2 linked regions of the Homo sapiens genome follow. The protein of the gene in region 1 interacts with the protein of each later gene in a pairwise test. Each region holds a gene or a part of one and is shown in the gene's direction. Other genes may lie near its edges.

The links.
Region 2: the proteins of RSRC2 (region 1) and NAV1 interact in binary tests that used the Homo sapiens proteins (3 or more experiments, as listed by UniProt).

The regions. Positions count from the first base shown.
Region 1 is NC_000012.12:122,506,149-122,510,060, reverse strand, and holds part of RSRC2 (arginine/serine-rich coiled-coil protein 2), read left to right. Parts: intron 1-1,610; coding exon of another isoform or gene 1,611-1,613; coding exon 1,614-1,843; intron 1,844-3,137; coding exon 3,138-3,227; intron 3,228-3,912.
Region 2 is NC_000001.11:201,537,193-201,541,104, forward strand, and holds the start of NAV1 (neuron navigator 1), read left to right. Parts: upstream 1-1,934; 5' UTR 1,935-2,150; intron 2,151-2,826; exon of another isoform or gene 2,827-2,953; intron 2,954-3,912. UniProt on the Homo sapiens protein: May be involved in neuronal migration.

The DNA.
Region 1 (3,912 bases):
CACCTGAGGTCAGTAGTTCAAGACCAGCCTGGCCAACATGGCAAAACCCCATCTCTGCTAAAAATACAAAAATTAGCCAGGCGTGGTTGTGTGTGCCTATAGTCCCAGCTACTCAGGAGGCTTGAACTCGGGAGGTAGAGGTTGCAGTGAGCCAACATCACGCCATTGCACTCTAGCCTGGGTGACAGAGTGAGACCCTGTCTCACGAAAAAGAAAAAAACAAAAACAAAAAACAAAAAATTATCACGAAGAGCTTACTGTTGATTTGGTATGAAATTTAATCTGGAAGATGGTTTTTTGTTGTTTTTTACATTTTTGGTAAACAGTGGCACTTATTTGAAACTCTAAAAGTTTACAAATAGCCATTTTATTTTTACTACATCATTACTCTCTTTGGTAACTCTGGTTCCCATAATGTTGGTAATTTAAGTACTTTTTAAGGTTATATTCTGGACTGACAAAAATAGGTAATCAGAGGTGTCTTTTTTTACAGAGGACTGCTCAATCACAGTGGAAATACCAGGGCTTTATTGAACTTGGACTTAGCATAATACCTGCATACTGTTGTTGTTTTTGGGTTTTTTTTTGTTTTTGTTTTTGTTTTTTTTTTTGAGACGGAGGCTCATACTGTCGCCTGTGCTGGAGTACAGTGGCACAATCCTGACTCACAACAACCTCCACCTCTCGGGTTCAAGTGATTCTCCTGCCTCAGCCTCCTGAGTACCTGGGCTTATAGGCGCCTGCCACCACGCCTGGCTAATTTTTTTGTAGTTTTTATTTGAGACGGGGTTTCACTATGTTGGCCAGGCTGGTCTCGAACTCCTGACCTTGTGATCCGCCTGTCTTGGCCTCCTAAAGTGCTGGGATTACAGACGTGAGCCACTGCGCCCAGCCTTAGCTGCATACTGTTTTTCAAGTATATGATGTGAGCATCAAATGAAATGTCCATGAGAACATTTCATAAATTTAAAAAAATACAAGGTTTTATTGTTTTGTAATTATACCTTAGAAACACTATAGTTCATCTCCACTGAAATCATACTTTCTTACTATTTGCAGAATTCTCTATCCTCAAAGTAAATAAATGGGTTTTTTTTTTGTTTTGATACGGAGTTTCGCTCTTGTTGCCCAGGCTGGAGTGCAGTGGCATGATCTCGACTCACTGCAACCTTCGCCTTTTGGGTTCAAGTGATTCTCCTGCGTCAGCCTCCCGAGTAGCTGAGATTACGGGCATGTACCACCACGCCCGGCTAATTTTGTATTTTTGGTAGAGACGGGGTTTCTCCATGTTGGTCAGGCTGGTCTCGAACTCCCAACCTCAGGTGATCCGCCCACCTCAGCCTCCCAAAGTGCTGGGATTACAGGCGTGAGCCACTGCGCCTTGCAATAAATGGTTTATATATCAAGGGTTTATGTAGAAATATGTCCGTTGATGAACACAATAAATGTTTGCTAAAAACTTGTGAGCTAATACTCAGTCATTTCCTTGGATTTGGTGAAAATCCTGCCTTTTTGCACATTCATAGCTTTTTATAAATCGTTCGTTAATGTAAATCAGGAGGTTTATGTTTTAAAATCGTTTTAAAATCCATTTTTGTATTCTCTTCAAGCAGCTGCAGCTACTGGAGGTTCTGTTCTCAATGTTGCTGCCCTGTTGGCATCAGGAACACAAGTAACACCTCAGATAGCCATGGCAGCTCAGATGGCAGCCCTGCAAGCTAAAGCTTTGGCAGAGACAGGAATAGCTGTTCCTAGCTACTATAACCCAGCCGCTGTTAATCCAATGAAATTTGCTGAACAAGAGAAAAAAAGGAAAATGCTTTGGCAGGGCAAGAAAGAAGGGGTAAGTTCTCTTATTCTGCTTTTCTGTCGTTTATTCCTAATTAGTAATTGCTTAGAAAAACAAATTTGGGTTGAAAAATATTACTTTCGGCTTAACTTTGTAAGAACCTGGGGTGGCCAGACGCGGGTGGCTTATGCCTTTAATCCCAGCACTTTGGGATGCCAAGTGAGCGGATCAGTTGAGGTAAGGAGTCCAAGACCAGCCTGGCCAACATGGCAAAACCCTGTCTCTACTGAAAAGAAGATAAAAATCAGCTGGGTGTGGTGGCACACACCTGTAATCCCAGGTGCTTGGGAGGCTGAGGCAGGAGAATCGCTTGAGCCTGGGATGCAGAGCCTACATACAGTGAGCCAAGATCATGCCACTTAGCCAGGCATGGTGGTGGGCACCTGTAATCCCAGCTACTTGGGAGGCTGAAACAGGAGAATCACTTGATCCTGGGAGGCGGAGGTTGCAGTGAGTTTCCAGCGAAACTCCATCTGGAAAAAAAAAAAAAAAATCACGCCACTGCACTTCAGCCTGGGTGAGACCCTGTCTCAAAAAACTTATAATAAGCTATGATAGTCTTATTTGCCAGTTATTAATACTAAAATAAAACATAATTGATTGAAGTCAAGCTTTCAAAGAAAACTAATATTACCATAGAAGTAGTAAGGAAAAGAGGCTACTTGGTTTAGAATTTTTCATAGATTATGAGGTACTTTTTTTTTTTTGACATTATTTGCAATGACAAATGACATTAAATGCAAATGACATGCAGTCGCAAAAATTGCATGTTGAAAAAGGTCTATGACAGGAAAATAATCCATTTTTTTATTTTATTTTTATTATTTTTGAGACAGAGTCTTGCTCTTGTCACCCAGGCTGGAATGCAGTGGTGTGATCTCAGCTCACTGCAACCTCTGCCTCCCAGGTTCAAGCAATTCTCCTGCCTCAGACTCCTGAGACCCTCCTGGGTCTACAGGTGCCCACCACCATGCCAGGCTAGTTTTTTGTATTTTTAGTAGAGACGGGGTTTCACCTAGTCATCCAGGCTAGTCTCGATCCCCTGACCTCAGGTGATTTGCCCACCTCGGCCTTCCAAAGTGCTGGGATTATAGGAGTGAAGCACGGCGCCAACCTCTTGCTTGTATTTCTTTGCTTTGTGGTTTCTTAAGTCTTGAAATAATTAAACTTACATTGATTGAATGCTATCCATGGTGTTTTTTTTTTTAATTTAGACATTGTTGAGAGATTTCATGTCCTAAAAAATATTTAAATTTTACATATTTTAAAGTTCAGTGTTTGTTAACAGGACAAATCCCAATCTGCTGAAATATGGGAAAAATTGAATTTTGGAAACAAGGACCAAAATGTCAAATTTAGGAAATTGATGGGTATTAAGGTGAGTTTCACATGTGCCAGGGGATCTTTGTATTAGCTATTAGCCCTCCTGCACTGTTCTTCCCTCATTTTCTTAGTTCTGGTCTTTACTCAGGTGTCAGCGTTTTTGAGTTCTTTCCCACCACCTTTTGTGAAATAACAAGCAATCCCATTCTGAAACATTTCCATCTCCCCTACCCACTGTCCTCCCTACACACACACTTGGAGAGAGAGAGAGAGACGGGGTTTTGCTCTGCTTGCTCTGTCACTTGGGCTGGAGTACAGTGGTGCAGTCATACCTCACTGCAGCCTTAAACTTCGAGGCTCAAGCAGTCCTTCCACCTCGGCCTCTCAAAGCCCTGGATCACAGTTCTGAGCCACTGCGCCCAGCCTCCATCCCCATTTTCTACTTTACTTTCCTCTGTGGCATTTATACCCTGACATCTTCTACATATTATGTTTTTTCCAACCTACTAAACTGAAGTTAACTTTTGTTACACCCTGCTATATTCCAGACCTAGAAAGAACATTGCCTTGTCCTTTGGAGGTGTTCAATAATGAATGGAAATTAAGTTATTGAGATCAAATACATATCCCAAAAGTATATTTTTGTTTGTTTGTTTTTTGTTTTTAGTATAGACGGGGTTTCACCATGTTGGCCAGGCTAGTCTCGAAATCCTGACCTCAGGTGATCCACCCGTCTCAGC
Region 2 (3,912 bases), on another chromosome or scaffold:
AATTATAGCTTTGGCTTTCTTTTCCATTCTGGGTAGCACCCAAGGAATGACATCATCCCAGCATTACCAATGTGGATGGGGGCTATGCATCCAGCCTCACAATGGGTCAAGGAGTCATTTCACCTTCTGATAGTCATTTGCATACCTACTGTGTGGTCCTTGGTCCCTGGGGTCCCACCTTTTGAGCTCTCAAGAAAGGACAGTGCTTCTTCTTAAAGGACTAGGCTCCCCTTTGCAGGACTGGGAAGAGCACAAAAGGATTCTAGCTAGCACATCATTGAATGCCAAACTGGGCGCAGAGTTACATCTCCAAGAGTTAGATCTCCAAGAGTTAGATCTCCAAGAGTTAGTTACTCCAAGATCAAAGTAACAGCTAATGTTCACTGAGCATTTACTATGTGCCAAGCACTATTCTAAGTGTGTCACCTATAGTATCGCATTTAATCCTCCCAACACTCTTAGGAGATAGGAACCATTATTATCCCATTTTACAGATAAAGAAACTGAGGTAGCTAGAGGTTAAAGAGTTCAGTAAGTTCCCATGGCTAAAAAATCATTGATCCAGGATTTGAACTCATGCAGTCTGCCTTAAGAGCCCACACTTCTAGTCTTTATACAGAGGGTAAGGGTGTCACTCTGCAGTCCACCCCCTTATCCCGCGCCAAAAGGCAGTTCACTCCCTTCATGGACAAAAATCATACAACAAATCTTTTTCCCTGATCAGTTGGGAACTTCTTGAATGTCACTGCTTGTCCATTGTCTGGTGTCTCATCTCTCCAAATTCAAAGCCACTGTGGCCTTACTGACTGTGTGGGGCGTTCAGGGAGGACTCAAGGGCTCTCATCCTGACTCTGCTCACACTGATTTTGCTGGCAAAGAGCTGTGAGACCTCCCAGGGAGTAGGCAGTTTTGCTTTCTATCCATCAGTCCTCCAACTTGCAACCCCATGGCCCTGGGAATAGATCAGTCCTCTTATTTGTTGGCAGGAGCAGGGGAATCTGCTGGGTCCTTGGCCACAGCTACTCCCTTTCCAAAGCCTGCTTCAAAGCTCAGGTCATCTGGCTTCCTTCTGCCTTCTTCCTGCAGACCCTGGAAGTCCCCAAGCCAGGAGGCAGGGGGCTTGCACTGCTTCTGCAGTAGGTTCTGGCTGAGGGCCTTCCTCCCATTCACTCTCCTCAGGTCCTGTCATTTCCTCTCTCCTCTTCTTCCCCCTCCTCCCACTCCCAAGTCCCTGGAAGAAGGAGGAGGGGCATCGGCTGTCTGGAAGGTGGGGAGAAGTCACTTATTTTACTGAGCACCTACTATTTGCGGGGCACTTGCGGGGCCTCCCCCTCCTCTAAGACAGCTCAGACAGCATGACAGTTCAGTGGGGTGGAGAAAGAAAGGAGGTGGGTGCCCGGGGTCAGAAGTCGGGTGGAGAGGCTGGCCCATCCATCTGTCCCCTTCTCCTAAAGAACTGCGGCTGAACCAGCGAGCGGTACCCGGACGACATGTGGGGGAGGGAGGAAACCCGGCCTGGAAGTGGCGGTGGCGGGTCCCCGGGCAAAGGAAAGGCTCAATTGTGCAAAGGCTTCCTGCCCTGCCAGCTCGCGGGTCCGCCACCGAGCAGCCGCCTTTCTGCGGCCAGCCTGGGAGGCGGGACGGGAAGGCGAAGGCAGCAAAGGGTTACGGGAATAGCTTTCCAATGACAAAGTCTGGAAGGGACCCATGCCTCCGCCCCTCTGCGGGTTAAACTGGCACAGTGCAGGGGGAGGAAAGCCAGGGCGATCGGACGGATTCTCTCCTCCTGCCCGCCCCCCGGCCGCCAGGCACTCCCCTCCTGGGCCCGCCGTGGAGGCAGCCGGCGTGTGCCTGGGGCAGCGGGTCACGAGGCTCCGCCCCGGCCGCCGTTCCCGAGGGGACGGCACTTTGTTCAGGATGCCGCCTCCCTCCTCATTGTGGGGCCGGGGCCGGCGGCTGCCCTAGTGCGGGGCCCGAGGCTGGAGTGCGCGGCGGACGCCAAGCCTGGTGCGAGGGGCCGAGGCGGCCTGGGGAGCCCCGGGAAACTTTGTGCTCGCGAGAAGCGGACCCCGCACCCGCGCTGCCCTTGGGGATGCGCGACTCTGCGCGGCTGCGGCGCGGACCCGGAGCCCGGGCGGGCAGGCGCTCCGGTGAGTGGCCGGCGCGGGGCGGTCGCGCGGTCGCGGCGCTGAGGGTCTGGCGCTTCCCGTTTTGCGAGGCTTGGCTGGCAGGTCCTGCGAGGCCGAGACCAAGTCTCGGGGTAGGGGAGGTTGGTGCCCGAGGGAGGCTGTGGGCTGGGCTCGGGAGAGGCGCTGGAATAAATAACAACCAAGATGCTCGCGGCTTCCCGGGAAGGTGTGTGCCCTTTCGACCCCTATGGGACTGACTGCGCGTTTGATTCTAGAGTTGACTCTCCGGGGGGGCTGCCTAACTTCAGTCCCTCTGAGCCTCAGTTTCCTTGTTGTGAAATACCCACAATTTAAAGTGCGTTGAGATCTTATCATGAGACACCAGGTGCTGCGTTCTTATACTCGCACCCACACGGCAAGCACACACCCTACCCGCACCTCTGCCTTTCGTTGAAGCAAGAGTTAACTCCTCCCATCCCAGCAGGAGCCAGAGGAACAGCTGGGGCAGGTGACCTCGCGGGCCGTTCCAGAAAACGTTCCCCGCACCCCCGGGATGCGCCGGGAAGCGCCCTCCCGCCAATCTCCCGGAGGCCGTCCTCTCTGGCGCCCGCCCAGTGCGTCTGGGAGCGGAGAAAGTGGTCCCGGAGGAGAGGGGAGAGAGGAGAACGCAGAAATTGGGTGATCACGGGGAGCTCACCTGAGCGCTCCCGAGGCTTGGGCTCTGGTCCCTGCTAATCCCCAGAGCCGATAAAAACTGGTCATAGGATAAAGAAGCAGCTAAGTTTGCAGCGGGCAGAGGGGAGGCAGGAACTGGAGAGGACGCGAGTGGCGGGTGGCGGGGGCGGTGTGTAGGGGTGACGTCCACCCGGCAGAGAGGGTTCCTTGTCCCCTGGAGCCGAACACAGGAAAATCAGCTGGTGAGTCAATGGGACTTTGTTAGGATAGTCACAGGGCGCAGCTGGCGCCGGCTTAAGGGAAGAGCTGGATCCCCCCTTGATAACATGCTGTTTATCTGGCTTCCTGTTTCAATGATTGGGATACCATTGGCTCGTTCAAATTCAATGCTGAGAAGCCTGTGGGCACGTTCGTTCACTGTGCAAAAGCAGAGGGCTTGCCTGGGTTTTCATCTGTGGGCTAGCTCTTGTTCCCCCTACATGAAGTCCCCGGCAACTCACTTGTAATGGGACTGGAGACTTCGCAAAAAGAATGGCCTCCCCAGGAGGAGGATCTGACGATCTGACACTGCAGAGACCTTGGCTTCCTTTAGGCCAGAGATATATATGATTCCAGCTTGCTTATGACATTTTTTTAAATCCTGCTTTGACTTTTTGTTGGTGTGTCTTTGGGATTGACCTAAGAAGGGAGACAGAGGGAACAGCTCTATGGATTTTGTCTTCTAAGATGAGCTTCCTAGTAGTATGTGCTTTCACCATCAGTTTTTAGGGGAAGTTTTCAATCATCAGTTTGTAGTTCTCTATCTGGCTGTGTTGCTAACCACCTGGATGATCAGAGAGCAAATAATTCCTCATGTCTCTGTCCTGGTTTTCACTTCTGTAAAGTGGAGCCAGGAAAAAATCGCTACGGTTGGAAGAATAAAGAAGGTTTTTCAGATTTGGGCTCCAGCCCCTAGGGTCTATTTCCTGAACTTTCCAGGTGAAAGAGAACACCAGGTGAAAGAGAACACCATTTCCGGGTGAAAGAGAACAGCCCCTGATCTGAACTTCTTCAGCAGTTTATCTGATTTCCCTTGGGGCAGGTCTCACATTCTGCTTTGCATTTTTTG